Regions from separate parts of the Homo sapiens genome. Here all the other regions are linked to region 1. Evidence: fine-mapped expression QTL. A gene starts in region 1. Each other region holds a variant in brackets. All regions are shown on one strand. Distances are between the middles of the regions. Region 1 holds the start of LIMS2 (LIM zinc finger domain containing 2). Region 2 holds the start of GPR17 (G protein-coupled receptor 17). Region 3 overlaps MYO7B (myosin VIIB). Region 4 overlaps MYO7B (myosin VIIB).

What was found.
Region 2: its variant is fine-mapped to the expression of LIMS2 in tibial nerve (GTEx, PIP above 0.99). The same link has a PIP of 0.9 or more in sun-exposed skin.
Region 3: its variant is fine-mapped to the expression of LIMS2 in whole blood (INTERVAL, PIP above 0.99).
Region 4: its variant is fine-mapped to the expression of LIMS2 in whole blood (TOPMed, PIP above 0.99).

Annotation. Positions count from the first base shown.
Region 1 is chr2:127,671,646-127,679,108 of GRCh38, forward strand. LIMS2 (LIM zinc finger domain containing 2) reads right to left here and starts at 3,885. Exons shown (of 10, transcript NM_001161403.3): 1 at 3,369-3,885. The coding sequence starts at 3,379.
Region 2 is chr2:127,645,886-127,653,348 of GRCh38, forward strand. The region is part of intron 4 of LIMS2 (LIM zinc finger domain containing 2); the gene reads right to left. GPR17 (G protein-coupled receptor 17) reads left to right here and starts at 268. Exons shown (of 2, transcript NM_001161417.2): 1 at 268-359; 2 at 4,831-6,754. The coding sequence starts at 4,851. The coding sequence ends at 5,870. RefSeq lists enhancers at 3,075-3,802, 3,829-4,123, 4,529-5,256, 5,257-5,982, 6,402-6,461 and 1 more. The variant A/C (reference allele first, on the strand shown) is at 3,487.
Region 3 is chr2:127,616,599-127,624,061 of GRCh38, forward strand. MYO7B (myosin VIIB) reads left to right here. Exons shown (of 48, transcript NM_001393586.1): 27 at 3,742-3,868; 28 at 5,384-5,503; 29 at 6,604-6,777. Among named protein-coding and RNA genes, the nearest start is that of MYO7B-AS1, 10 kb to the right of the region's middle. RefSeq lists an enhancer at 3,601-3,650. The variant G/A (reference allele first, on the strand shown) is at 4,390.
Region 4 is chr2:127,634,759-127,642,221 of GRCh38, forward strand. MYO7B (myosin VIIB) reads left to right here. Exons shown (of 48, transcript NM_001393586.1): 43 at 362-468; 44 at 964-1,149; 45 at 1,450-1,566; 46 at 1,787-1,870; 47 at 2,036-2,155; 48 at 2,558-2,968. The coding sequence ends at 2,659. It overlaps LIMS2 (LIM zinc finger domain containing 2), which reads right to left. Exons shown (of 10, transcript NM_001161403.3): 6 at 7,291-7,441; 7 at 6,138-6,230; 8 at 5,512-5,560; 9 at 5,312-5,387; 10 at 3,668-4,670. The coding sequence ends at 4,523. Among named protein-coding and RNA genes, the nearest start is that of GPR17, 7.7 kb to the right of the region's middle. RefSeq lists enhancers at 1,095-2,041, 2,042-2,988, 2,989-3,935, 3,936-4,881. The variant A/C (reference allele first, on the strand shown) is at 3,834.

The DNA.
Region 1 (7,463 bases):
TCACACCACGGGACTGGACACCCTGCAGATCAGTCCCTCCATCCCTATTATGCCACTGGCCGGCTAGAAGGGGCCAGTCAGCACCAGAAGTAGAAGAAAAAGGAAGGAGGTGAGGGGCCATGGCAGTGCCACCTGGCCCAGTCTGGGGCTCAGGGCTCAGTGGTGCCACATCACAAGCCACATCACTTGTTACCCACTTTACAGTTTGCTTAAGCCCCTGACGCCACTGCAGCCTCGTGTGCTGTGCTGAGGGCTCTAGCTGCAGTCAGCTGCCCCTTGGCCGACACCTTCTGCCTAGGGGACCACCGGGCACACTCCTCACCCGGAGGAGGGGCAAGATTGGTGGATATGAGGGCAGGGATCTAGCAGCCTGCTCTGCGCTGTACTAAGCATGGGCTCAGCACACAATCAGGCATACGACAGCCTCACATGTGACACACATGACGGTCACACCATGGGTGGGACTCCACTTTATGCAGCCAAGCCACTGAGCTCACGTGGCCGTGGGTGTCAACATCCCAGGCTCCATTTCCAGGAATGCCAGGGACAGCTGGGTCCCTAGGTAGGTGGCCTTAATATCCTCCCTGTAGAACAATGGTGATGCCAGAGGTCCCTTCAGCTGTGATAGTCAAAGATCTTGTGGTTGTAAGTTGCAAAGTCCCTGAGTTGCTGCTGAGGCCGAGCCCCCTCTCTTCCCACGGCGTGCCACCCCATGCTCTGGGCTGCCTTCACTCCCTGCCCAGCTGGCTACTCCTGGGCTTCAGCCCCTCCATGCCCAGGTGCCTCCCACGGCTCCCCCTCAGACTTGCCACAGCTCTTCAAGCACTCCACAACCACACCAAGCATGCCATCCACCCCCACCTGTCATCACAGGAGGGGCATCCTCCCGAGCCCCACCCTCTGTGGCCCACCTCACAGCCAGTCAGTTGGGTCCTGTCCACTCCACCTCCCAGAACCCTGAGTCAGCCTCCTCTCCTCCACCCGCTCAGCCACCCAGGAGAGGCCTCCCTAGTGGCTGCCTTCTGTCTCCTTCCCCATCTCCTTCCCAGCAGCCCTTTCTCCACACAGCACCCATGGGTTCATCTGCAGACAGCATGGCCACACATGCCACTCCAGGTCACTTTGGTGGCTCCCCACAGCCCTCCCTCTGCTCTTGCCTGGTGAGGTCCTAGGGAGAGCTGGCAGGGAGAAGCCCTGAAGGTATGCGAGCAGAGAGGGTGTTTCCCAAAAGCAGCCTGGCTCTGGGCAGCATGGGGGATCCCGAGAGAACCAGGATCCAGGCACGAGGAGCTGCCCGGGATCACATGGGAACAGTGGACGTGGGGAAGGGCACCCAGCATGAAACGGTGGAAATGAAACTCCACTGCTTCTGGGACAGGAAAACTCTCGCCCACTCCGAAGGCCGGGTTGGATGTCTGTTCCTCACAGACTGGCCCGGCCCAATCCCTGTGTATGGAAGGCAGGGAAGCCAGTGGGGCACCAGCACTGCGGGCAGCAGGGTCACCTTTGAAGGAGCGGGTGCATTACACTCAGATCGCTCACAGCTGCGTCAAACAAACTCCAGGAGAAAGGACTGCGGGGAGCCACCGAACTGCATAAAGGGAGGCTCTTGGGAGTGGAACTGTGGCAGTTTCCTTCTCTTTATGTTTCTGTTATCTTTTATGTTTCCAGGTTTCTCCTTATTCTCTAAGACGAGTAGTATTGCCTGGACGAGGAACGCCCTACACAGTGCCTGCCAAAGGCTGACTGTCATCCCTGTGTCATTTGAGGGTAAGAGTTTCTCAGGCCCTTGGAGCCCACAGCAGCAAGGGAAGGCTGACCCCTGCTCGCCACCACCTGCCTTCCCAGCGGTTCCGGCCGGGCTCACCTGACGGCCTCCGTCTCCAGGGAAAGGCCCAAGGGACTCAGGGGCAAGAGGACCCTTGCCAGGGAGCAGTGGCACCTCGGGGCCTCCCATTCCAGCCCCGCACCCTTCACGGCTCTGTTCTCCTCGACATCCCTCCTGTGCCTGAAGGAACCGCCTCTCACCCACCTCCACCTCAATGCTGCTGCTGGGGCTGCTCCGGACCCTGTTCCTGTCTCTCCCCACTTTCTTTTCCTAGAAAACAGGAGAGTGAGAACCAGCCAGCTGGCAGGGATGCTCTGAGGAAAATGGGAGGCAGCCCCGCTAGAACCCTAGGGGGTGACCACAGGCAGCCAGTGGGCCTGCAGATGCCACTCTCCGGGGGATGAGTCCCTCCATCTCACTGCAGAGGGGCCTGGGCCAAGGCTTAGAGGTGACTCCAAGTCAGGGGAGCTAACTGGGAAGAGAGGCTTGGGGAGAAGAAAGGGAAGTGTGTCTGGAGGGCAGGACTTACAAAGTGACAAGTTACAGGCTATTTTTGGTTCCTGGGCTGCCCTGAGACCCCAGGCCACAGCCTTAATGGCGATCACAGAGGCAGCTCCCCTGTGGGCCTCGGATTTGAGACTGCAATCCTGGACACTGCCCTGTACCCTCCAAGCCCCTTTCCCCAGCAAAGCCACAGGTCACTCTCCGGGCTGGGGCTCCCCAAGAGCCCCAGGTCATGGGATCCTGAAGAACAGCATCCCCCTGCCAGGACTTGGCTGGGGGAGACCAGGGCCTCAGGGACAGCCCCCTCCCACCCAGTCCTGAGTCATGCACTTGTACCCAGCTAGGTTCCAGAAAGGGCTGCAGGGACAAACACTGGCCGGACACTGGTGGACCTGTGACTGGCCTCCTGAGTGGCTCAGCCTCTGTGGCCTCTGGTGACCTCATCTGTGAAATGGCAACGAGGGGCCTGAGAGCAGAGGGTGGGCCAGGCCCAGGGGAGCGCCCTGTCCCCAACCAACCCCTGCACAGCTGGTGCTTGGGCGCAGCTCTGGCCAAGTTCCAACATACCCTTCAACATTTTTAACATTTTTACCACCCCAGGTTTACAGAGGAGGAAACGGAAGGCTCCAGAGATGACACTCACCGGGATCGGGGATCGCACAGCGCGGGCTCGGGGAAGTTGGGGGAGGCACGCAACCTTTGAACCTTTTGCCCGTGGTTGGTGTCTGACCTTGGACAAGACCCCCTCCCGCAGCCCTGGGCGTCGGTTGTGAGCAGACGGCTGTCCCATCTTGCAGCGGGCGGGTGGGCAGGAGCTCCACCTTCCGCTGCAGGCGCTCGCCCAGAGGAAGAGGCGCGGGGGCTGGGGGACCCCTGCCCCGACGGGCGCTGCCGCCCCGGCAGCTGCGAGAATCCGACGCGCCAGGGCGGAGCGGGGATCGTGGCGCCGCGGGGCTGTACGAGGGCGAGCTGCGCCTCGGCCAGGGGTCCCGCAGTCCCGCCTCCCCGGCCCGGGGGCGTGGGTGGGGGCCGTTACCTTCCCGTCATGGTGGCAGCGACGCCGAGCCCTGGGTTGCCGGGGTTGCCGCGGGTCTCCCTCTGCTGCTGCAGCCGCCAGCCGAGCGCCCGCCCGCCAGCCCGGGCCGCGGAGCAGGGAGACGCCCAAAAAAGGCCAAGAGCCGCTCCGCCCGCGAGAGGGGTGGGCGGGGGTGGCAGGGTGGGGCCCGCGGGGCGGGGTGGGATGGGGAGGTCAAGGCTGAGGGTGGTGGGGGTGTTGGGGAGGTGACGGTGGGAGGTTGCGGGAGTATAGGTGGGGGTGGGGGTGGCAGGTGGGGGTGGCGGCGGGTAGGGTTGGAGGGGTGGGGGTTAAAGGTGGGGCTGACGGTGGGGTTGGAGGGGTGAGAGTGAGGCGGGGGTGGGAGTGGGGGTAAAAGTAGGGGTAAAGGTAGAGGGTGGGCCCCGCTCCCGCACAGCCCCAGCTCCAGGGACACGGAGCGCGGCCAGCGGCGGGCGCGGGTCAAGTCCTTCCCAACCCGGGCTCTGCTCGCCACCTCCTGGATTCCGGGCATAGCTTTCCTTTTAAAGGGAGTAAAGTTATAATAAACGCGAACAAGCACCCCCACCCCCACAGCCCCGCCGGGACGCCCCGCCCGGCGCCCCCTCTGCAGTCCCTGGGCCGCCCCAACCGCAAACGCGTGCAGGAGATGGTAGGCGTGGGGGCGATGCTGAGACCACCTCCCTCCCGGGCTTTCCTAGCCCGGAGTTCCCACCGCGGATCTGGGCACTGACTCCCTCCCGAGGCACCCGGGACCGCCGAGTCCACGCAGTCCCGCCCCCAGGGAGGCTAAAGCCGAGAGGCGTCCCTCTTCAGTCGCAAAGCTGCTTTCCCCGGGAAATTCCGATTTCATCCCCCGTTGCGGGCCATCGCCCTAACTTGGCGAAAGATATTTCTTAAACGACAAAACCAAATGCCCAGCTCCCAGGTTTCCAGGGGAACCAGGCACGCCTCTGTATAATGAAGCGCTGAGAAGCTACCATTAGAGGCGTTAAGATGGAGGGGTAATATAAACTATTTAGGGAATCTCTTCGGAGGAAATTTTCAAACAAACAAAACAAAAAACCCCCGCCCTGCCTAAAGGCAGATATTTCCAGCTGGACAGTGGCGTGCAGCTCATCTTTGGAAGCAGCCCAGATGTCACACTGAGGTTTGGGAGCTGGGCGGCCTGATGTGTAAATGTGGTGCTACTCCGGTCTTGGCAGCAGAGAAAGATGATCTAGAAATGACGGTGTGAATTAGCAACCCACAAATAAACTGGTGCCGTTCAGAAAGATGAGTTGATAGTATCCTGCAGTTCCACCTGCAGAAATAAGCTGGGAAAAGACACCTGTTCCTAAGTGGCTGGTATTGTGGAGTGCCTTTGCAGTTGTTACTTTTTTTTTTTTTTTTTTTTTGAGACGGAGTTTCGCTCTTATTGCCCAGGCTGGAGTGCAATGGTGCAATCTCCGCTCACTGCAACCTCCGCCTCCCAGGTTCAAGCGATTCTCCTGCCTCAGCCTCCCAAGTAGCTGGGATTACAAGCATATGCCACCACACCCAGCTAATTTTGTATTTTTGATAGAGATGGGTTTCACCATGTTGGTCAGGCTGGTTGCAAACTCCTGGCCTCAGGTGATCCGACTGTCTCGAGTTATTACTTCTTGTTGCGAGCGTGTCTCAGCTGATTCGGCTTAACTGTAATTTGATGGTTGATTAAGCTTAAGTATGGATAATTTCTTGGCTCACCTGCTCATACAGGGAGAAAGGCTTTCCACCATTACTGACACAGAGGTGTAGGCATGCTGGGGCCGTGCACCAGAAATCCACTGCTGGACGGTTAATTGAATATCAGGGTCTTGTGGGAACCAAAGAGGATGAAAAGTTGAAAGCATTACACCAGAGGCCCATGCTCTCCACAGAGGAGACCACATTCCTGCCTTTTAGCCCAAAAGCCTCCCTGCATATGATAGCTGAGCACACACGGATCTGTATGTGGCCAAACCAGGACCCTATGCAGCTCCCAGTGTGCCTCATCCCTGGGCCAGGGCAAGCTCAGTAACAGCTGGTAGGGGTTGTGGGCATGGCTTAGCCCTGCTGGAGATGCAGAGGCTTCAAGGAGCCAGGGCCAGCCTCCCACAGTTCAGCCAAGAGGGCAGAGTTGCAGGAAAGAGCTGGCAATCACACATTCACACACTTATCCACTTGTTCCTTCAAGAGTATTTATACCGCATGGGCACTGGAAGTACTAGGGGGAGAAAGAAGCCATGGACCAGGCTCTCATGGAGTTTAGCAGGAGGTGGAGGATGGGCAATAAACAAATAAATAAATACGCAAACTAGATTTTAGACAAGGGTAAGTGCTGCAAAGAAAAGGACAATGGTGGTGGCTGCTTTAGAGTGAAGGGTGAGGGAAAGTTTCTGAGCAGGTGACATTCAAGCTAAACCAGAATAAGGGAAAGAGCCAGCCCTCAGCCATCTGCAGGAAAAGCATTCCGGCAGAACAGCAAGTGCAACAGCCCTGAGGTGACATGAGCTTGGGGTACGCAAGGTCAGAAAGAAGACCAGTGGGTCTGGAAAAAGGGGAGGTGGCAGGTGGAGGGGCACGGGAAATAAAGGAGAGGGCCCAGGGCAGAGCAGCAGGGCCACAGCAGAAGTAGGATTCCACCCTTAGATGGAGAGTTCTAAGCAAAGACAGACACAACACTCTAGCATCAGCAGGGGTGAATCTCAGAAATACTGACTGAATGAAAAAAGAGCACCTTTTCCATCTATATCAAGTTCTAGAATAGGCAACATTTGTCTGTGGTAGAAAAAATCAGAACGGTGGCTGCCTCAGGCTGGTCTATTACACCCCGGACTGCCCTGAGGTGGCAGGACAGGGGTTGACTAGGAAGGAATGTGAGGGAGTTTCTGGGGTAACAGGCAATGTTTTAGTAGGAGTTTGGGTCACACAAGTGTATATGCCTTTGTTAAAACTCATGGAATATATGGCCAGGATTTGCACATTTCATTATATGTACATTTTACCTCAAAAGAAAAATACCGTAAACGATACTGAACTCCAGTTAATGACATACAATGCTGAAGTGTTTAGGTAGAAAGGTACTGATGTCTGCAACTTACTTTGAAATACATTGTTTAAATCAAGATGAGCCGATGTGGTGGATCCCCGTAGTCCCAGCTAGTCCTTAGCTACGGGGAGGCTGAGGAGGGAGGATCACTTGAGGCCAGGAATTCAAGACCAGCTTGGGCAACATAGCATGACTCTGCCTCTAAAAAATGAACTCAAGATGGGGAGATGGGTAAAGGGAAGGACAGAGAGGTGGTAACGTGAGTCTACGACGATATTAATGGGAGAATCTAGGTGGTGGGTATCTGGGTTTTCAACTTTGATGAGTGCTTGAACTTTTTCATAGCAAAAGGGGGAAGTGTCCCTAGCTGCTGTGTGGCCACTGTGTGAGGGACAGAGTGGTCTCAGGGACAGTCTGATTAGAGGCTATGGTGAGCGTCCAGGAGGGACTGGTGCCTTGGGCCGTGCGACAGTAGGGACATTGAGAAGGCATCAAACACAGGATCTATTTTGCAACCAACAGGATTTGCTGGGAATCTGGATGTGTGTGTGTGGCCGGCGTGGGCGTGGTCAGCACAGGTGTGGTGGTTGTGGGGCAGGTGTGTGTGTGGCAGGTGTGAATGTACAGCCGTGGGAGTCAAGAGGACTTGCAGGTGGCCTTGCTTTCCTAGATATTGGTGGCAGTGGGACAGTCTGGGCAGGTTAGCGAGGGGTGACGTTGCATTGGGCCCTCCCCAGGCATCCCAGGGGAGATGGTGGGCGGGGCACTGTGAACCTGGAGCAGGGAAGAGAGGTCCATTCTCCAGCGTAGATGCAGAAGGCTTGGTACAAATGGAATTTCAACTCTAGGGCTCCATGGAGACCCTGGGGTGTCTGTACCAGTCAGGAGCCCTCCAAGGGTAAGAGGTGGGACTGGCAGAAAGTGAGGGGGAGAGCAGGAGAGTGTGAGGTGCCACAGAAGCCCGGAGGGAAAGAGCTCCAGGGAGGAGGTGCGCCACTGCCCCGTGTGCACACTGCTGCGTGCAG
Region 2 (7,463 bases), 26 kb before region 1:
GCTCCAGCCCAAGCCCCCCACCCAGCCCCCGCCTGCTCTGAGTCTCTGAGACAGTCACACACTCAGACTATGTGGCCAAGCTGGGGGCGGGGGGCATGGGCTAGGGACACACTAGAATATTCACGCTCCGGTGGCAGCAGCAGCAGCAGCCAGAGGAGCAGCCCGACACAACAAGGGACCCCTCAGGAATGAAGCAGCCTTTCAGGGCCAGAGGGGCTGTGGTCTCCCTTCCTCTCCTTAAATAGCCAGCGTTCCACCCACAGCGGCAAGGAGCCCCCTGCCACCACCGACACCCACGGGCGGAGATCACCTGCTGCCCCGCAGACCCCTGTCCCTTCCTCCCGGACCAGCAGCTAGAGGTAAGGGGCAGGCTGGGTGGGGTGGACTGGGAGCCCAGGGCTAAGCAGAGGAAACACTCAGCGGGGAGCCCTGCCCAGGGAGACAGGCAGCAGCCTGTCTCGTCCCATCTCTTTGGTGATGGTCTGACCTGTGCATCGAAGGCTGACCACAGTCTGAATTCACAGCAGCCCACAAAGCGGTGTTTCGTCCCTCTGATGGGGGCTTGCAGAGGGGAAGTGGCTTGCCGGCAGTCCAGGCTGCAATGACAGCACCGCTGCCCCTAACCATTAGGCAGCCTTGACCCATAGAGGAGCCAGATGCCTGGGAGAGGGCTCGGGCCAGGGATGGAGTGGCGCTAATGCAAAGGAAACTGCCACCACCTGGCCATGGCGCTGCCACCACAGGCCCTCCCCGAGGCCACACATGCCCACCTGCCACCTCCACAGAGGCCTATGACCTGTCCTAGATGCTCGACTCACCCACAGCCACGGGACCCAACACTGCCCAGGCCCCGGCCCATGCCACGCCCTTTCCTCTTACGGACACCGGCTCGGTGGCCGTCTGACCAGTGAGTCGTGAGGAACCAGCGAGTCTAGACTGAAGTTTGTGTTTCTAAAGGGCAACAGAGAGTGAAGCGGGGCCCATCTCAGACCAAACTGCAACAATCAGTATCAGAACTCCTCAAACGGGGGACAGAAAGGGAGAAGAAACCTCAGCAAACCTGAAACCAACCAGAAAGCTGTTTAAAATGGAGTCTCAGTCCCAGAGAGAGCGAGGGGCACGCCCTTCGGCCCGGGCAGGAAGTGGAGGGCAGTGCCCAGGCTGAGGCCCCCGGGCTGGAGGCAGGAGGCACCACAGGCCCACCTGGTGCCATGAGATATGCCACCCCTGCCGTCACTCAGGGCCCTGAGCCCAGTAACACTCTGCCGTCACTGTCCTGAAACTCTTCCTTTTTGAGCAAGGGGCTGCACATTCTCATTTCATACATGGGCCCCTAAAATGAGGGAGTGGCCCCAGGGCCAGGAGGGGGTGCTGAGCCTGGGAGACAACTCCATGGCAAACTCTGAGACTGAGTCACACTCCCCACCCTGGCGGTCTTCCAGGGAGTGAGACCGTTTCCCCGGTCTCACTTCCAGCTCCAGGGCCAATGTCCCCTGGTCAAGTGACCTAAGACAAGTTAGCAGACACTCAGCCTTGACTCCCTAACCTGCAACATGGGGCTAAAACTGGTTTGAGCCAGCACAGGCAGGCCCCCACCATGCCAGGCAGAGTGGTCAGTCGTACCTATGAGCTGCTCTCTCGTGGGGCCAGGTGATGCCTGCACTGTGGGGCACAGCACAGGCCTGAGGGACAGCCTGGGGTGGAGGGCACCCACCTTGGCCCCTTCCCACCCCCAGGTTCTAACAAGGGCCCCTCACTCACTGGGCCCCCTCTCCTCTTCCAGTCTCCAGGGCCTCCCCGCACACACCTTCCTCCTCTCCTGCCAACCTGAAAACAGCACACCTGTGTGCCCCTCCCATCTACCATGGGCTGTCCTCTCTGCTTGCCCATGCGTCTGCCCTGGAGCCCTGTTCCTCCAGTCTCCGGGTCCTCACCCCCAGCACATGCAACACGACACCCTCAAAGTCATGGGCCCCCCTCCCCTGCCACCGTCCCACCGGTACCTGCTCCCTGTTCTCCCCTGCCTCACAGGCCCTGTCAAGGGCTGTGTTCCTCCCTCCTTTTACCTCTCCTCCACAGCCCCCTTCACAGCCCTCAGCCCTTCCCCAGGGCTTCAGCCAAGCCTGTCTCCCTCTCCCAAGCATCACTCACCCCGCCTTCTTCGGCCCTCAGCTCTCCGCCCTCACCGTGGTTTTAGCAGTCCTAGGGAAAGTGCCAGCCGAGACCAGCCAGACCAAGTCAGAGTACTGTGGAACCTGGATTCCTGGGGAATGGGGTCCCCATGAGGAACTCCACATTGGACTAAGAACAGACCCTGTTCCTGGAAGCAGCAGGAAACCATCTCTGGTGTTAGAACTTCAGGCATCTTGAAACACTCTGAAGCCGGGGGCAATCTTTTCAGGTAGGGGAACCTGCCTAGAGAAATAGCTAAAAGGTAATATTATTAGGTAGTTGCCCTCCCCTTTGCTTGAGGACATTGATGGCCAGGTGCTCGGGCCAGCCCTCACCCTCCATGTGAGGGCCACAGCAGCTGGCCACTCGCTCTCCTGAAGGAAGGGTGCGGCCCACCCTTCCCTAGGGCTAGGGCCACCACCATGCCTGCTTCTCCTCCATATGAGGATGGCTCCAGCCTCCTCCTCGAGGGGCTGCTGTGTCCATGAACAGTCACCATGCCCTCTCTGCCCCGTGCCACCAGCATCCTGAGACAGCCCTGTGGAATCAGTAAGAGGAGAGGGGCTGGGCGCAGTGACTCATGCCTGTAATCCCAGCACTTTGGGAGGCCAAGGAGCACTTTGGGAGGCCAAGGAGAGAGGATCACTTGAGCCCAGGAGTTTGAGACCAGCCTGGGCAACATGGCAAAACCGTCTCTACCAAAAAATACAAAAATTAGCCGGGTGTGGTGGTGTGCGCCTGTAGTCCCAGCTATTCAGGAGGTTGAGGTGGGAGGATCACTTGAGCCCTGGAGGTTGAGGCTGCAGTGAGCTGATTGCACCACTGCACTCCAGCCTGGGTGACAGAGGGAGACCTTGAAAAAGAGAAAGAAAAAAAGAAAAAAGAGAGGGAGGGGAGGGGAGGGGAGGGGGGGAGGGGAGGGAGGGGAGGGGAGGGAGGGGAGGGGAGGAAGGGGAGGGAGGGAGGAAAGAAAGAAAAAGAAAGAAAGAGAAAAGAAGAAAGGAAGGAAGGAAGGAAAAAGAAAAGAAAAAAAGAAAAAAGAAAAGAAAAAAGGAAAATAAAGAAAAGCAAGCAAACAAGCAAAGCGAAGTGAGAGAGAGAGGAAGGTAGGAAGGAAGGAAGGAAGGAAGGAAGGAAGGAAGGAAGGAAGGAAGGGCAGGGAGAAATGTGCAGAGTGAATTTGCTGCAGGCAGGACCCCGGCTGTTCGGTGCAGAGCCAGGCTCGCCCAGGATGAGGACCCTGCCAGGGCTGTGGCCCGTGCCTCCTCCCCTCCTGCTGCCACAATGGGCACAGGCAGGATGCCAGCTTCTCTT[A/C]TGCAAACCTCTCTCCAGCCTCTGCTTCAGCCTGGCTGTGCAGGGTGGGGATGGTGGATACTGGGAAGCCAGGTGCCCAGAGGAGCCCCAGAAGCTGTGCCATCATCAGCACCCACCTGGCCGAAGCCCGCTGGTGACCCCAATTCAAAGGCAGGCCAGGTGCGCTGTCCTGCCCTGGTTCCGGGCTGCGGGCTGCTCTGGCCCCACCGCCTGCCCACACTGCCACTCGCAGGCCTGGGTTGGGGAGGCAGAGTGTTTGGGACCCTCACTCTCCTTCTTCAATCTTCTGAGTTGACTAAAATCAAAACAAGAGTGGGTTTCTCTGCTGAGGGTGGGGAGCACCCTATCCAGACCCAGGGTTCACCAGACGGACATGACTTGTTACCCAGGACTGTCACAGGGCTCTGCACTTGGCCTTCAAACGTGGGCAAGCCACGAGGCCTCCAGGCCTCTCTGGGGCTGCAGATCCGTCCTCAACAGCGCTGGCCAGTGTCTCTGACGCTGGGTAAAATGGGTCTTCCCCTCCTGGAAGAGATGCTGCCCCCTGGTGGTGGATCTACTCTGGGAGAGAAAATACTCCCAGCTGGCCTGATACCCAGGCACAGGCTTCTCCTAAACACAGGTCTCCCCACCTGTCAGGATGTCCAAACGGAGTTGGTGGGCTGGATCCAGAAAGCCCCCAAGAGAGATGCTGAAACTCTCAGGTGGGTAAAAAGAGTAGACCTCTGACGTCCCAGGGTACAGCCCTTGCTGCCATCCTGGGGGCACCCTCCTAAGTGCCAGGGGCAAGCCATGGTCAGGGGAAGCAGAAAGCGGTGACACCCCGGCCACTGCACCTGTGGGCAGGTGGGTCAGGGAGGGTCCAGGCACTCAGGATGAACAGAACTCACCTGCCAAGGCTTGGGCTGAGGAGGAGCTGGAATCCCGGAGACACACTGCCCCCGCCCCTCACCACCCCTGTCACTCAGACAGCACACCTCAGAGGCAGAACAGAAAACCCAGAGCCTCACCCAGGCAAGGCTCACGTCCCATTCCCCGCCATGGCACTGACCCGGTCCTCCCAGCTCTGAGGAGCCTCAGATCTCCTGGGTGGCAGGGGTGCAGCTGCATAGCGGCGAAATTCCAAGCCCTGGTTCTGCGTTTGCCTTGTGCTGAAGTTCAGAATGCCTCTGACGCTCACGCACACCAAATGGACAAGGAGGTCCCCTCAGCAGCCCCGTGGGCGGTGCTGAGCTTGAAAGTGGGAGGTTCTGAAGGCATTGGAGGCCTGACTTCTGGACTTCAGAGAGCGTGAAGCTGCCTAGATCGCAAGCTCATTGTGAACTGTTTGCTTGTTCCCTCCAGGCTCTGACTCCAGCCAAAGCATGAATGGCCTTGAAGTGGCTCCCCCAGGTCTGATCACCAACTTCTCCCTGGCCACGGCAGAGCAATGTGGCCAGGAGACGCCACTGGAGAACATGCTGTTCGCCTCCTTCTACCTTCTGGATTTTATCCTGGCTTTAGTTGGCAATACCCTGGCTCTGTGGCTTTTCATCCGAGACCACAAGTCCGGGACCCCGGCCAACGTGTTCCTGATGCATCTGGCCGTGGCCGACTTGTCGTGCGTGCTGGTCCTGCCCACCCGCCTGGTCTACCACTTCTCTGGGAACCACTGGCCATTTGGGGAAATCGCATGCCGTCTCACCGGCTTCCTCTTCTACCTCAACATGTACGCCAGCATCTACTTCCTCACCTGCATCAGCGCCGACCGTTTCCTGGCCATTGTGCACCCGGTCAAGTCCCTCAAGCTCCGCAGGCCCCTCTACGCACACCTGGCCTGTGCCTTCCTGTGGGTGGTGGTGGCTGTGGCCATGGCCCCGCTGCTGGTGAGCCCACAGACCGTGCAGACCAACCACACGGTGGTCTGCCTGCAGCTGTACCGGGAGAAGGCCTCCCACCATGCCCTGGTGTCCCTGGCAGTGGCCTTCACCTTCCCGTTCATCACCACGGTCACCTGCTACCTGCTGATCATCCGCAGCCTGCGGCAGGGCCTGCGTGTGGAGAAGCGCCTCAAGACCAAGGCAGTGCGCATGATCGCCATAGTGCTGGCCATCTTCCTGGTCTGCTTCGTGCCCTACCACGTCAACCGCTCCGTCTACGTGCTGCACTACCGCAGCCATGGGGCCTCCTGCGCCACCCAGCGCATCCTGGCCCTGGCAAACCGCATCACCTCCTGCCTCACCAGCCTCAACGGGGCACTCGACCCCATCATGTATTTCTTCGTGGCTGAGAAGTTCCGCCACGCCCTGTGCAACTTGCTCTGTGGCAAAAGGCTCAAGGGCCCGCCCCCCAGCTTCGAAGGGAAAACCAACGAGAGCTCGCTGAGTGCCAAGTCAGAGCTGTGAGCGGGGGGCGCCGTCCAGGCCGAGCGCAGACTGTTTAGGACTCAGCAGACCCAGCAAGAGGCATCTGCCCTTTCCCCAGCCACCTCCCCAGCAAGCAACCTGAAATCTCAGCAGATGCCCACCATTTCTCTAGATCGCCTAGTCTCAACCCATAAAAAGGAAGAACTGACAAAGGGGATCCATCGGCCACCCCTCTGCAGGGGCTTGTGATGGCTACAATGGCTCCTAGACACTCAACGACTTCATCTGTGGCAGGGAGAGAGGAGGCCGGAAGAACAACCCCTGAACAATGGAGGCCTTTCTTTCCCGCTAGGCTCCCAGCCTCCTTCCCGCTACAGAATCGCTCATCGGCGAGGCTCAGCAGAAAGACCCTGAAGGCAGGCTGCAAATGACCCAGAAGAGGGACCTGGGAGTCCTGGTGGGGACGGGGAGGGAGTCTCAATACTCCTTTGCAGTGCAAGGTACTCTGAGTCCCCTCTGTAGTGCCTCTGCCAGACACACACTGCCTGAGTTGAAGAGACACAGGCCACACATTTCAGGCTGGTTGCCAGCGGACGTCAGCACTCACGGCCTGCAGGGACTCAGCACAGCTCTGGATTCTGGATCTCTCCTGCTGTAACCCCACGCACAAGCCTGCAACCCCCAGAGCTCTTTGACAGGCTCCCAGGCCTCCCAGTCCTGGACAAGCATGTGCAGTCACGGGAGCTCAGCTCAGGCCAGGGCTGGGCTGTGCACCTGCCTCCCACTGACCCAGACCCACTTCCTCCAGAGAGGCCTCTCTCCGCCTGAGCTATTTCCCTTGCTAGTGTGCAGATATTTCCCTAACATGTCCTTTTTTGTATTTGTTTGTACGGACCATAAATATAACTGTAGCTTTAAGACTACACAGGTTGTTATGTTTGGTCAACATGAAGCGTTTCCCAGAACTTCTCTGACCCAAGAATGGTGAAGTGGTGGTACAGTGGCAGAGGCAGCCTCGTGGGCTCTCTTGCTGGGGCTCTGGCAGCTCACAGCACATCTGCCCAGATTCTGAGGTTCTGCACTGTGGGGCTGGGAGGGCCAAGTAGGGGCCCTCATTCCTCACTCTAGCTGCCACCCTGCACCGTCCTTACGGCAACATGCTTTTGTAGCATGTTTGACTTTCCAAAACGTTTCCAGCATCTTTCAGATTTCCCCAACCAGCCCTTGGGGCAGTGGCCCTGTGCAAACCTTGGCTCAGGAAGGAGATTGGGCTCGCTCCACACACCCTGTCGGCGACGTTGCTGGTCAGCACGAGCTCCTGGTGCTGTCCCTCGGCCCCTGCACTGCACCGTCTGCCCCTCAGCCCTTCATTTAGACAAGCTGCTCAATGCCAGGCACCGCCCAGCTCCGAGGACAGTGGGCCGGACGCCAGGCCCCAGGCCACGTGCCTCTCTCACGGGCAGCACACGGACAAGAGCTCGGTAGTGTCGGGGAAGCATCTCGGAGGAGCTGCGGGAGGGAGCAGAGTGCCCGGACAGAGAGAGTGTGGCAGGGGAAGCATGGCTGGGGCCTCTGGGGGTCGGCGCTGCCTCTCACTGATACAGGGGACGCATGCAGAGGCAGCCTTGGTGG
Region 3 (7,463 bases), 55 kb before region 1:
CAAAGGTCCCCAGATACCGGTGGGAATCTTAGTGAGTTTGTCTCCTCCAGTTAACGTAACGCACTCCGACTGGGAGATCCAATCCTGCATTTCCAGGCATTCCTGGAGAGAGGGAATTAATGTGCCTCCGGAGACCCACCCCTGAAGCAGAGCTGTGGCCTGGATGGGGAATGCCCTCATTGTTTGAGGTGCCCAGGTCCAGGCCCCCTTCTCATTTCCCGACAGGGGGGTGCCATTTTGATGAAATTTTGAGTGGCACTGATGAGCCCAATGATTTCCTTTATTGCAATGAGGGCAAAGTCTTGGTGTTTTTCTGTTGGGAGGGGAACCGTGTTATAAGATCCCTTTTGCCCAGAGGTCTGGCGGTGTTCTTTTTTGAAATGTCCAATTTTCCTACATTTATAACATTTTCCCACTTTAGGGCTTAACCCTTGGCTTCTTTTAGATCTGTCAGTTACCAAATTAGCCATTGCCTGAGTCAACATTGCAGAGCAATGAAGCTCAGTTCCCACATCTTGACAAGCTCTGAGAAAACCTCCCAAGTCCTCTGCACATCTCACAGGTACCAGCGCACGTTTACAAGCCACGAAAGACAAAGCTAAAGTTCGCCTTTCTGTAGCTGCAAAAGAAGACGGTACAAGCCAATTTTCATCCTTCCTCTCCCGTTCACCACTTTCGATAGGTGCTGTAGGTGGGGCAAAAAATTCTCTCAAACCCTGAAATGACAAGAAAATGGTATGTACCAAACTCCAAACAAAAAAGAGAAGAGAACCAAATTCTTCCCCATGTTACCCTGATTGAAAAACTTCCCGTTCTTTGTACCTCTAGGACACTGACCAGTACCTTTTTAAAGCACTGACCTTATGCTGCCAGCAGACTTGTAACGGGGTTTTTTTTTTTTTTTTTTTTTTTTTTGAGACGGAGTCTCGCTCTGTCGCCCAGGCCAGACTGCGGACTGCAGTGGCGCCATCTCGGCTCACTGCAAGCTCCGCTTCCCAGGTTCACGCCATTCTCCTGCCTCAGCCTCCCGAGTAGCTGGGACTACAGGCGCCCGCCACCGCGCCCGGCTAATTTTTTGTATTTTTAGTAGAGACGGGGTTTCACCTTGTTAGCCAGGATGGTCTCGATCTCCTGACCTCATGATCCACCCGCCTCGGCCTCCCAAAGTGCTGGGATTACAGGCGTGAGCCACCGCGCCCGGCCTTGTAACGGGGTTTCTTATTCATCTGGTTGGTTTTAGTTTTTTCTGGGCTTTAGTTTTTTTTTTTTTTGCTCCAGCAGACCTTCCTCGCTCAAGTCCTTATAGGACCCTATTGTCCCTATCTGTTCCTGTCTGTCCCTGCAAGTTTCTCCTAGTCTTTGCTAGTCCTTGCTAGTCTTTGTCTATCCCTATCTGTCCCTATAGTCCCTGTTAGTTCCCGCAAGTCCCTGTCTTTCCCTAGCTCTCTCTATTTGTCTCTATTTCTATTTATCCCTACTTATCTCTATTTGTCCCTGCAGGCCTCTTCAGGTCCCTTCAGGTCTGTTTGTCCCTGATTGTCCCTGTTACGTCCCTGTCCAGGCAGCACTTGCAGCAATTTGCCACTGTTACTACTTGAGATCGTCATTACGGGAGTTACTACTGTCACTACTTGAGACCGTCATTACGAGACGGAACGAAGGGGGATGAACGTAGAAATGAAAACTTAAAACAAAAGAAACTGTTTTAAAGGGGCCAGGGGAAGAAAAAGGGCTCCCTACTCCTAGTAAGCAAAGACAGCCCCCACCCCAAGCTTCTTCAGCCCTTAGTATTTATTGGGTAGAATAAGCAGGGAGGAGGAGGTAACGATTGGTCAGCTGCTTAACTGATCACAGGTTCATATTATTACTAACAGGCTTCAGGTGTGCCCTGTAGATAATCACAAGAAACACTTGTGCCTGGGTCGTGACTGCCCTCAGCATTCCTTCTGGGCGGCAGACGCAGTTTGTCAGTTTGCCAACATTCTGCTTTTATGAGAACAGTTTGCTGTTTGCTCATATAGCCTCCAGTGGTATACTGAGCTGATCACGACCCTCACTCTTTCGGCCTGCATCAGTCACCCTTGAGACAGCCCACAGGGTCTGGAATTTATGAGTGGTTTGCCATTGTTGGGGCATGGAGCTTGGATTCCATCCTAAGGGAAGTGGGGAAAGTTTTAAGCAAGAGAGGATCTTGATCATATTTGACTTCCAGAAAGACCTCCCTGGCGATGTGGCAGGATGGAGCCTGGGGCTGGGAGGCCAGGCAGGGCTGCTACAGAGATCCAGAGAGAGCTGATGAGGAATTGCCCAAGGAACAGGAGCCAAGAGGAGGGGACAGAGGAAACATGCAGGAGACAGATGGTAGCATGTGGGCACTGGTTGGATCGTGGGGGCTGGTTGGATTGTGGTGGCTGGTTGGGTTGTGGGGGCTGGCTGAATGGTGGGCGCTGGTTGGATTGTGGGGGCTGGTTGGGTTGTGGGGGCTGGTTGGGTTGTGGGGGCTGGTTGGATGGTAGAGGCTGGTTGGATTGTGGTGGCCAGCTGGATTGTGGGGGCCGGTTGGGTTGTGGTGGCTGGTTGGGTTGTGGTGGCCAGCTGGATGGTGGTGGCTGGCTGGGTGGTGGGGGGTGGTTGGGTTGTGGGGGCTGGTTGGGTTGTGGCCAGTTGGATGGTGGTGGCTGGCTGGGTGGTGGGGGGTGGTTGGGTTGTGGGGGCTGGTTGGGTTGTGGGGGCTGGATGGTGGGGGCCGGCTGGGTGGTGGGCGCCAGCTGAGTAGTGGGTGCCGGCTGGGTGGTGGGGGCTGGATGGATGGTGGGGGCTGGTTGGATTGGAGGAATGAAGGGATGGGAGGGCTCCAGGATGACCCCCAGATTTCCAGTTTGGGTGAATGGCTGATGGCGATGCCTGTAGACCACAGAAAGAGGAGGGATGCAGGAACTCAGAGAGCCAGCCATGCACATTGCTTCCCATCTCTGTTCGGTGATGTCGTGTCGCAGTTGACATTGGCTTTGGTGGGAACATGTACACCACAGAAATAAGCAAATGCTGTGAATTGGGCTTTTCTTCTTGGGGGAGCTGGTTGATAAACATTTACCAGCACACCACTGAGTATTAGGGGAAAGATGCTGGCCTCTGGAGATGTGGCATTTGAGGTGTTAATGGGCCACTTTTATAACATGATAGAGGCTTGAGTCCATGGGGAAGGACGCAGGAGAGAACCGCCCCCAACACACCCCCACCAGGAGTGGGGAGGCTCCACAGACCGTGGGAGTAGGAATGGTCAGGAGATGGGGTTGAGTGGCTCCCATGAAGTCCTCACTTTTCTCTCTGCTGTGGAGGGGAGGGGCTGCATTCAGGGAGGGAGGTGGGGCCTCAAGGCAGAGAGAGAAATGACTGTAATCACCGTGAGACTGGGGATCCCGCACATCTGGGAGCAGATGGGCTGTGCAAAGGGCGCGGCTGCTGAGGACAGGGCTGTGGCTGGAGAACCTGCTGCTTCCTGAAGCCGAGCCCCACCCTAAAGGACCGAGAGCACAGGCCATGGGAGAGGAATCGAGTAGGGATGCAGAGCCTGGTGGCACTGTCCTGAGAGAGGAGGAGGCTGGGCAGGGCCCCGGCGCTGGAGAGGTGCCCTGCATATGGGACCTCTCAGAGGTGCACAAGAGCTGTGTGCCCAGGTACCCCTGTCTCCTCTCCTCCTCCAGCCCCCAGCCTACTCTCCTAATGGTCTGTGTCTTTCAGGGATGAGATTTACTGCCAGATCTGCAAGCAGCTCTCGGAGAACTTCAAAACAAGCAGCCTGGCCCGGGGCTGGATCCTGCTCAGCCTCTGCCTCGGCTGCTTCCCACCCTCAGAGAGGTTCATGAAGGTGAGAGGGTTCATGAAGGGAGGGCGGGCAGGGGGCAGGTTCTGGTGGGAGCGTAGGTGGCCCCTGGCCCTGGAGCAGGTCCACAGATTCCAGTACGTGGCCCATTTCTCCTGCTCCTGCAGGCCAGATGGGCAGCCATGCCTATGCTTCTCCAGGACTCAGTTTCCCCATCTGGAAAAGAGGACCCTGCTCCTGGCTCCTTCCAGCCCCTACGCAGGGTCTGCAGGGCCATTTCACTTTGGCTCAGGTGTCAGGATGGTGCTTCAAGACTAAAATGAGAAGGTAGATGACACGGGCCTTGAAAAGACAGGTGTCCAGGAGTGGGCCCTGCCTGGAGATGTGCCACGGCACCTCTTTCTAGTTCTTAGGACTGAAAATGGAGCTGGGTTGGCCGAGTGTTAGTGGCCCCAAGCTTCACTGATTTAATATGCCTTTAAATTCTGATTATAAAAGTAATATGTGGAAATGCAGAACATCTAAAACCAAAATAAAAGTCACCCCCACACTCAGAGCTAACTTCC[G/A]TTAATATTTCCTTCTGGCCTTTTGTGGTGTTACAGGGTCCTTGTGATCAAACAGAAAACACTTTCTCACATGTCCCTTTGGGGACAGCAGGAACCACGGTCACTGAAGCCATCTGCGCATGGCACTCAGGCTGCTCCTGACACCAGTAAACCCTTCCAGGCTGTTCCTCCCCACCCCAAGGCAGAAGAAATAACATCTCTCTGTGAGACAAAAAGAACTTCAATGTGTTTTCTTGAGCATGTTGGGGACATGGACTCTTCTGCAATTTTTTTTTTTGTTTTTTTTTTTTTTTTGAGACGGAGTCTCACTCTGTCGCCCAGGCCAGAGTGCAGTGGAGCGATCTTGGTTCACTGCATCCTCTGCCTCCCGGGTTCAAGCAATTCTGCCTCAGCCTCTCGAGTAGCTGGCATTACAGGTGTGCATCACCACACCAGGCTAATTTTTGTATTTTTAGTAGAAATGGGGTTTCACCATGTTGGCCAGGCTGGCCTCAAACTCCTGACCTCAGGTGATCCTCCGACCTTGGCCTCCCAAAGTGCTGGGATTATAGGTGTGAGCCACCATGCCTGGCCCTGCACTTTTCATTTACTGTCTTCATTATGTTTTCTCATGGTGTCAACCTCCCAAATGCCAGCTTGATGCCTCGCTGTTCCAGAAGGCACTGGGGTTGGGGGTGGGCATTTAGAGTCCATCTTCCAGTCATTCATCACCATAGAGGCCATCACAATCAAAAACCACACATCCACCTTTAGGATAGGCCTGCATTGTTGTGACAAAGAGTGTGCACACATCAAGACTATGCACCGTTTAAAACGTGTTGCCAAACTGCTCCTCAGAAACACACTGATCCATGTTCCTTCTAACGGGTGTGAGGGTGCCCCTCAATGCACATTATACACTGAGTATTATAATTCTTAAGTCCACCTGGGTGGTGAGTAGAAACTGGCCTCCTTTCTGAGTGTCTTCCTCCCTTCTCCCCTCCTCACCCACCAGTATCTACTGAACTTCATCGGCCAAGGGCCGGCGACCTACGGCCCCTTCTGTGCCGAGCGCCTGAGACGCACCTATGCCAATGGGGTGCGTGCGGAGCCCCCCACCTGGCTGGAGCTGCAGGTAGGGGCTGGCAGGGGTGAGAGCGGGCAGGGTGGGGTGGTGCAGACCCCCAGGGACCCCCAGCACAGCTCATGGGGTGCCTTCTCCTAGGACAGAACTTTGTCCTCTGAGCCCCGCCATCTCCTCTGCAGTACCTCCCATGCCAGTGGTCCCTGTGAGTGCCCCTGGGGCTCGGCCTCCCCAGGCGTGACCCCCATCTCCAAATCCATATTCCTTTAGGGCCCTACTAGCTAAGGGGAAGATCACCGGACCCACTCATTAGCATTACAGTGCGCCAGTTGCTTCCAGCACTCCCCTCCAAGGGCATTTCACTTGGTGACAAGGGCAGTAGTCACACCATGGTTGGCATCCTTGGTGGCATTGCTATTGGGCACATGTGCCACCTCGACCTGCTTTGGCAACTGTGTCATCTGTGAATTCTCGCTGTTTTCTCAGGAAGGGTCATTCAGAACAGCCAGCCAGGGTGGCGAGAGCACACCTGCACCCGGCTCTACACAAAGCTCTGGCCCCAGCCTAACCCCGGCAGGTGCCCGCCCTGTGACCCGAGGTGCCCTATACCAGGAGCTGTGGGTCACTTCCGCTGCACCTTCTTTCTGTTCTCACCCTGCCCCCGAGCCCACAGGGGCTCCCTCCCACGAGCCCTGGAATTGTAGGTGAACTTGCAGTAGCTGTGCATGTTGACACAAGGGAACAATACGTAAAGGCCCCAAAATGTTCCCGAGTCCTGGACTCAGATTCCCAAGAGCTCCTGGTCTTCTGTGAGGTGAAGTCACTGAACCACACCAAGCTCAGGATTCTCATAAAAGCAGCCACTATGGCCTCAGGCTGCCCCCACTGGAGGTCCAGGAGGACCTGGACGCCTGTGGCTAACATTGCTCTTGCCTGGTTGCTGTGCTTCCAGCGGCAAACACCTGTTGGCCTGAATTTTGTTTTCTATGCCAAGCCCATGGCCTGGGGCTTCAGAGGGCCCACCCCTGGGAACCCACGGGATGGCAAGCAGGGCCCATGGGCTGGGGAGAGGAGGGAGGTAGTGGATGGGGGGTTGGCCTCCTGTCCATAGGTTCCAAGAGGCCAGGGAACTGAATCTCATCTGTCCCCAGGCTGTCAAGTCCAAGAAGCACATCCCCATCCAAGTCATCTTGGCCACTGGAGAGAGCCTAACCGTCCCCGTGGACTCAGCCTCCACATCTCGGGAAATGTGCATGCACATCGCTCACAAGCAGGGCCTCAGCGACCACCTGGGCTTCTCCCTCCAGGTCGCCGTGTACGACAAGGTACCAGCCAGGCACCCTGCCCGTCAGCCGCCTCCCTCATACACCCAGGGAGAGCACCCTGAGGCTCAAGCCCTCTCACCTTTCCAGCCCGGCCACCACCTACCCTCCCAGCTGCCAGGCACAGCACTGCTTACCCTCCCAGCCACCAGGCACAGGCAGGTGCACACACACAGAGCAAACAGCCTTTCCTCCCGCACTCATATGGTCACCTTGCAGCTGCGCCTCAGCCCCAGCAGTGCCGCATGCACACCTGGTCCCCCACCCAGCAGCCACGCACAGACATCAGGCACTCACACCAGTCTCCTGCTCCAAACTCCCTCATGCCCAGGAGCTGTGGACACCCCTGCAGCAAACATGGAGGGTCACACCAGCACAGACCCTCACCGCCCACATAGGCACCCCCAATTCCACGCCCACACCCTCAGACTCACACACCAGTCATCCAACCGAGGCGCCGGATGAGTCACATCGGCCAGACTCATGTCTGCCTCCTTAGGGAAGGGGCTGCAGGGAGAGTAATGGGGAGTGGCAGATGGGCCATTGCTGTGTGGAGAAGCCCTTCAGGTGTCCACACGGGCTCAGCAGTGTCCACTCAGCCCACGCTGGGCTCCAAGGGCCCCAGGCCCTGTCTTCTACGTGCACACGCTGACGGTGGGCGTCCCCGTGGGGTGGGGCATGCAACAGCC
Region 4 (7,463 bases), 37 kb before region 1:
CCATGCCCATTCATCCATCCATTCGTTCCCGTGTGTCCCTGGGTTGTGGGAACAACCAGGCCCTGGGGCCCGGCGGTGAGGGCCAGCTCAGGCAGAAACAGGTGGCTGCACCTTGGAGTGATGAAGGATGCCCCAGGGCTGAGGGGCATGACCCTCATGGGCTGGGAGTGCGAGTCCAGGAATGTTCCTGGAGAAGGCAGCCTCTACACTAATATTGAAGGAAAATGTGGGGACTGGGGAGGAAGAAGCGTGGGGGCTTTCGAGGCAGGGAGGTGGCAGGCGCAGTGTGGGGGGTGGCAGGGGGTCAGGGCTGGTGTACCTGCTGGGACAGGCTTGGTGCCCACTGCTGGCCCTCGCCCAGGGGCCCCCGTGACGCTCCCCTACCAGGTGTACTTCATGCGGAAATTGTGGCTCAACATATCTCCAGGGAAGGATGTGAATGCAGACACCATACTCCATTACCACCAGGTACCGGGCAGGCTGCCCTGGTGGGCACTGGGGCCACCCCCATCTTCCCACACCTGTTCTGAGGCTGTAGAAGCCAGCAGGCCAGGGCAGGGCCAGCCTCAGCCCTGGGTACCAGCCCATGTGGTAGGCAGACCAAGCCCCTGAGGGCTCTGGAACCAGGAGCAGAGGGCAGCAATGTTTGGGGACAGTGACTGCACTGGCACCTGCAGCATGACTTGGAGAGGGTGGGACAGAGGGTCCTGTGACCCATGGAGCAGTGGCCGTGGCCTGCAGGGCCAACCACATGGGTGGAGCAGGCCATCACCTCCACGCAGATGTCAGGGGGCCCTGCCCTGACTCAGGGTCATTCCCCTGGCCTGAAACTCTCTACCCTGCTCAGTCCGTCCTGGATGGAGTGGGCTAAGCCCCAGTTCCCCACCATCTGAGCGGGAAAGAGGTTGGGGGCGGGTGGGCCGCAGCTGGAGACCCAGCATGCCCAGTGTGTCCATCACCCAGGAGCTGCCCAAGTACCTGCGCGGATTCCACAAGTGTTCGCGGGAGGATGCCATCCACCTGGCGGGCCTCATCTACAAGGCCCAGTTCAACAACGACCGGTCCCAGCTGGCTAGTGTCCCCAAGATCCTGAGGGAACTGGTGCCTGAGAACCTCACACGCCTGATGTCCTCGGAGGAGTGGAAAAAGGTCCCTGGTCGGGCTGGGGAAGGGTTCTTGTGCTGCTGCTCCTCCCTGGGCCCCTGCACCAGTGCCATGCCCTGCCTGGGCTCCAAGATCACATGGGTGCACATGGGTGGTGTGGAGGGTGGGCTGGCTCTGCACACACCACGCCTTCCTATGCCATCCACAGCACCGAGACTGTCCCATGCTGCATTCCTCCCCTCCCCTCCCCACCGTACTAGCCCTGGGGTAGGCAGGTGCTGCCCCCACCAGGGCTTTGGAGGGCCTCTGGGCACCCAAGTCCTTACTGGCCCTCCTGTCCCCCAGAGCATCCTTCTAGCCTATGACAAGCATAAGGACAAGACAGTGGAGGAGGCCAAGGTGGCCTTCCTGAAGTGGATCTGCCGGTGGCCCACCTTCGGATCCGCCTTCTTCGAGGTGAAGGTAAACCTTGCCCCACGCCAGGGCCTCCTACCCAAGCAGGCTCCGCTCAGCCCAGCCCCAGCAGGCCCAGCGTCAACCAGCACACATCTTGGGTGGGGCTGGCCGTGAGGCTGGAGGGCGTGGGTGTATGTGTGTATGTGCGTGTGGCCTAGATGAGCTCCTGGGAGGTGCAGCCTGGCCTCCCGGGCTGGACTATGACCGCCGTGTCCCTCCCTCCCAGCAAACCTCGGAGCCTTCCTACCCGGACGTCATCCTCATCGCCATCAACCGACATGGGGTTCTGCTCATCCACCCCAAGACCAAGGTAGCTGCTGGGCCTCCGGAGGGGCTGGGGGCCACCAGGTCCAGGGACCTGTGCAGGTGGGGCTGCAGTCATCTCTGCGGTGTGTCCTGCCTCTCTCCTGTCCCCTAACACACACAGAGCCCGTGCTCTGGAGGCGTCCGGCCCACCCACCCTCTCTGCCCCCAGGACCTGCTCACCACCTATCCCTTCACCAAGATCTCCAGCTGGAGCAGCGGCAGCACCTACTTCCACATGGCGCTGGGGAGCCTGGGCCGTGGCAGCCGCCTGCTGTGCGAGACCTCCCTGGTGAGCTCAGGTTCTTTCTCCCATCCAAGATGCATAGGACAGAGCTGCTGGAGACTGGGTTCCCCACCCTCACCCCTTTCAAGTGGCTCACTAAGAGGGCTCAGTCACAGGGCCCAGGCGGGGCCAGCAGATCTGGAGAGGGCCTGGGTGCATCCCCAGGACCAGCAGCCAAGGTGGCAAGGCCAGGCGGGACCCCCTGCGCCCTTGGCCCATTCCAAGGAGGGAGGGAGACCCAGCTCCAGCAGGGCAAGCAGAAATGACGGCCCCAATGGCAGGAGCCCGCCTTCCCTTTCTCCATGCCCTGCACTGCTGGTTGCTGAGGAAGAGAAGGTGGTCCCTGAGTCCAGGACCCCCACCTGCCCTCTGCACCCACAGCCTCTGACCCCCCCGTCCCCTGTCCAGGGCTATAAGATGGATGACCTGCTGACCTCATATGTGCAGCAGCTCCTGAGTGCCATGAACAAGCAGCGGGGCTCCAAGGCCCCAGCCCTGGCCAGCACCTAGCAGCGGATGCTGGCGTGTCTGCTCAGGCGCCCTTCCCGACCTCTAGCCTGGCGGCACCTTCCCAGGCCCTCTCAACCCAGGGCCTGTCCTTGGCGGGCAGCCTTCCATGCTGCCCCCCATACAAAGCCCACTCAGCCCCGCAGGCGGCCCCCTCTGTCCTGGGCGCTGCCCAGGGAGGCCAAAAGACGGGCCCAGAATGGGGTCGGGAGTCTCGGACCCCCAGGCTATTGGTGGATGACTGACTGACAGGACACCTCCCAACCCCACCCCACCCCACCAGAATGTTCAATAAAAACTCCTGGAGCAGGAGAAGTGTGTCTGTCTGAGGGAGCAGGGTGTGGCACAAGGTGGACAGGGGGCCTGGGAGGCTCTGGCCCGCAGAGAGCTGCAGAAAAACCAAAATGCCGTGTGACTGACTCCCCCAGGGAACCCGGAGGGCAGCTGCATTCTCCAGAAATGACTTCATCCCTCCCTTTCTGCTTCCTTCCTCCCCCTCCCTTCCTTCCTTCCTGTTTCTCAGACTGGGGAGGGGCACTCATGGGAGAGTTCTCCTCCCAGGCCCCTCCTCACACCTTCTGTCCTTCTCCCCACCCGGGGCATTGATACGCCTGCGCTACCCCCAGGAGGCCAGGGTGGAGGTGCGGCTCTCTGGCTGCTGGCTTCATGCTATGGCCAGCTTATGCCCAGACAGACAGTGGGCAGAGCTGGACATAGCACCTTGGAGGCCTGGATTCCCCCACCTCGCTGGCATGCCCTGTCCCTGCCCACCTCCTCCTCTGCCCACTGGGCCAGCTTATGTGGACCTGGCCACCCAGGCTTGTGAGGACCTGGCAGGGCTAGTCTTCAACTGCTTATGGCAGCCTGGCCTGGGATAGAGGCTAGGGCCCCCTGAACTCGTGCCTGTCTATGTCTGTCCCTCTGTTCAACTGCCCCAGCAGCAGCGTGTCCAGAGCTGCTGCCATCCCCTCCACCCCCGACCCCCGCCACAAACCACGCAGGCTGCTGTGGTTGTGTGAACAAGCCTTCATTGTGCAAGCGTGAGCCCAACAAACAAACACCAGGTCTGCGCTGGCCGAAGACGAAGCGTCCTCCCTGGAGGTGGGAACAAGTCACCTCTGACCACACCTCCTCTGACGCCATCACCTCCTCCTGGCCCCACCCAAGGGCTCGACAC[A/C]AGCCCCAAGGTCGGGGGGAGAGGGGCGGGGCGGAACCGAGGGCGGAGGCCAAGGTGGGATTCCAGGAAGGCCTTCCGAAGGATGGAGGTGGGTCCTGTCCCTCCAGGTAGCTTGTGGGTGTGGACAGCAGGACTTGCTGGCTCAGTGTGGGCACAAGGACACTGTGCCACTGGTTGAGTGAGTGGTGAGGGATTGGAGGTGGCTCCCAGAGGCCTCCATCTGCATGGCCCTGGCCCTGTGGCTCCAGCAGGCTGCCCTGGCTGTGGGTAGCCCAGGAGCCACATGCGCTTAGTGGGGCCGCTCTGGGGCAGGGGCTCTCACAGGACAGCATGAGCCACTGAGCCGCCTGGGGAGGGCCAGGCCAGGCGGGGAGCTGTGGTGCAATTTGCTCCTGTCCCTGGAGGTCTGTGGGCGGAAGCTGTGGGCACAGGTGGACATGGCTGTCAGACGTGGGGTCATAGGCTCCCACTCCCCAGCTCCTGCCTCCTCACAGACAGAAGCCACGGCCAAGGAGAGGAGAGACATGGGGAAGGCAGAGATGAGGGAACAGGAAGGGAGAAGGCAATGAGGAAAGAGAAAGGGAGGGTAAGATGCGGAGGGCACAGGTGGATGGGGACGAGGGGGCCAAGCATGGACAGCAGGAGGGGAGAAGGCGGAGGGGCCGAGAGGCAGCTGCGCAAGAGGGCCTTCAGGCAGAGTTGAGGTCTGTGGCCTTGGGCTGGGCCTTGCGGGAGGTCAGCTCCGACAGCTTCTTCAGCCGCTTCTTCAGCTCCAGCGGGAACTTCTCGTAGCACCTCTTACACACGGGCTTCATGTCGAACTCCACAAACTTGTTCCTGAGGAGGAAGCTGAGCTGTCAGCAGAGCCCCACGCCCACCCCTTTAACCCCAGACAGGTGACTGTGGAGTGGGCTTCCCTCAGCCCCCAGCCTCCCCACACCAGCCTCTCCTAGCCAGCAGGCCAGGCCCTAGGGTGAGATGGCCAGAGAGCATAGGGATGAGAAGGGCCTTGAGGCTTCCCTTGCCTCCCAGAGGCTTCTCTCAGGTTCTGAAACCCCAGAACCCTCTATGCCTCCCCACAGCCCTTGGAAACCTGGACGCCATCTCTCCTCTCCCAGCTCCAGCCATCCCACACCCCTCGAGGCTTCCTGGATGAGCAGCTGACACTGCTGCTTTTGCATATGCTGTTCCCTGAGCTGGAATGCCCTTCCCTCCCCAGAGCCCAGGGTTCTGGCAGGTGTGTTGGAGGCATGAGTGTTCCTCCTCCTCTCACTGTGCCTGGGGTCCCTGGGGTCCCTGGATCCCCTAGACCCCCTGAACCTGCCCCCATCTCCCTGGGTGGTATAAGGCCGGGCTGCCCCTTGTCCCCACCATATCCCCAGGCCAGACTCAGCTGGTGTGCAGGAGGGCTGCTGAGAGGAAGGACCTGCAGGAGCCCCCTCCACCCTGAGCCCCATCCCACGATCACAGGGACTCACTTCAGGGTGAGCTTGCTGTTGCAGGTGGAGCAGGAGAAGCAGCTCACACACCAGGCCTTGTTGAGGGCCGACACCACTGTGAGGGAAGCGTGGGACTCAGCAGGCCTGGCTAGGCTGCCGCAGGCCCGGCTGGGCTCACAGCTGCAGCACCCAGGCCCCAGGAGAGCAGGTGGGGTGGGGGAGGGAACACAGGGCCTCACCATCGCCTTCAATCACATGGCTGCAGTTGTAGCAGACGTCCCCGAAGAGCTGTGGGCCGAGCAGGCTGTCAGAGTAGCTGCAGGCAGTCACACCCCAGCCCAGGGCCATCATGCAGCCAGCCTGGCCCTCCAACACGGCCCCTCTCAGGCATCTCCCAGGCCCTGCCTCCCAGGGCCCAGCTGCAAGGCTGGGTTGAGGGCACGGCAACCCATGAGAACCACCCTTCCGGGAAGGACAACAGGCTGGGGCGTTGCTCCCCAGAAGGCCCCTCTGCTCTGGCCACTGCTGTCCTGCAAGGAGGTGGGCCCAGGTGGTGACTGCATCCCACCAGCGCCCCCTGCCTTCTGTACCAGAGCAAGGGAGGGAGGGGGTTGCTGGCACTGTCAGCCCCATGTGCCCGGGACCTCACACCAGCCCCAGAACATTCTTCAAAGGAAGACACTGAGACTGAAGAGAGCTGCCCAGGTCTCGAGACCCCAGGCCAGGAGCCAGGGCTGAGGGTGCAGGCCTGGGCTCAGCACCTGGCAGAGCTCCTGAGGGGGTGCCCACAGCCTCCCTTGCTCACGGCAGCTCTCCTGGCCACCCCTCCAGACCCGCATCCCTGAAGGTTCTGCACCGGGCTCACCTGGTTGTAGTGAGTCTCGCAGTAGGCCAGGCCCTTCTTCTCATAGTGCCGGTGCCCCAGGAATGGCTTCTCACACTTGGCACAGACAAAGTGCTGCAAGGACAAAGGGCGGGCCGGGTGGCATCAGGGCTAGAGCGGTGACCCCGAGGGACAGTGGTGACCCGGGGACAACAGTGACCCCAGGAGCCAGTGACTCCAGGGGACCACAGTGGCCCCAGGAGGCAGCAGTGACAGAAGGGGACAGAAAGCAGAGTCTGGGCAGGTGCAGGCCTTTCAGGATTCACACTGGGCAGAGGGGACTGACACCTCTGTGAATGCCCTGGGGTCAGCAGACCCTACCCCTCCTCTAAGGCACTGATGGTAACCTTGTGAGTCACCATCCCCTCCCAGTCTGGCCTCCCCCTCGGCAGCCTCAGCCCCAGGAGTCAGGTGCCAGCCTGGTGCTGCGGCATGGTGGGCCCTCATAGGCAGAGGCGGCCCTGCCTGTCCACGTGGGGCCTCCTGCAGGCACCCCCTGCAAGCCTGGGATCACTGAGCAGCACCTTGCATTCCCCCAGGGATCTGCATGTGAGGATGAGGGCTGGGGGCTGGGGCCTGCATCAGGGCAGGACCGCATGGCCTCCCACCCAAGCCGCCACCCAAGGCACAGCTTCCGGACACAGCGCTGGCCAGGTCATCAGGGGAGGTGGTGGGCTCACTGTTCCCAGTGTACCCATGAGAACATGAGAGCCCACCACCCGGTGGGGGCACTCCAGGTGACCCAGTGCTCACACCTGAGGAACTCTTCAGCTCCGTGTCTGCACAGGGCTGTCCATGCAGCGGGTTCTGTCATCCACAACCCCCAGGCACTCTGGACAGACTGCCCCCAAGGTTTTCTCCTGACCTTGGAGTCTCTTAGAATGCCAGCAGGGGGAAGAGGAGAGGTGGGCACAGCTACCCAACCGTGTGTGTGCACTCGGGTCTCCTGGCTCCCGTGGGCAGGCTGGGGTCCCTGGCTGAGCACAGGGAGGGGCAGTACCCCTGAGGAAGGGCCTCGTTGGGAGCCAGCCACCCGCCCTGGGCTGGGAGTGTGGAGGAGCTTTAGGGCTCTTACCATGACCCTGAGCTGGGGCACCCCCCAACCTGAGGCCACGTGTCCACCAGCCTGGCTCACCTCCACGTGCCACTGCTTGCCCAGCGCGTTGACCACTCGGCCCTCGATGGGCCGGCGGCAGGCCCCGCAGATGGGGACGCCCATCTTGTCATGGCAGGGCAGGCAGTAGAGCTCACCCTTCAGCTCGCGGGCCTCGGCTGTCAGCTCCTTCCTGGAAGACAGCGTGCAGCCCC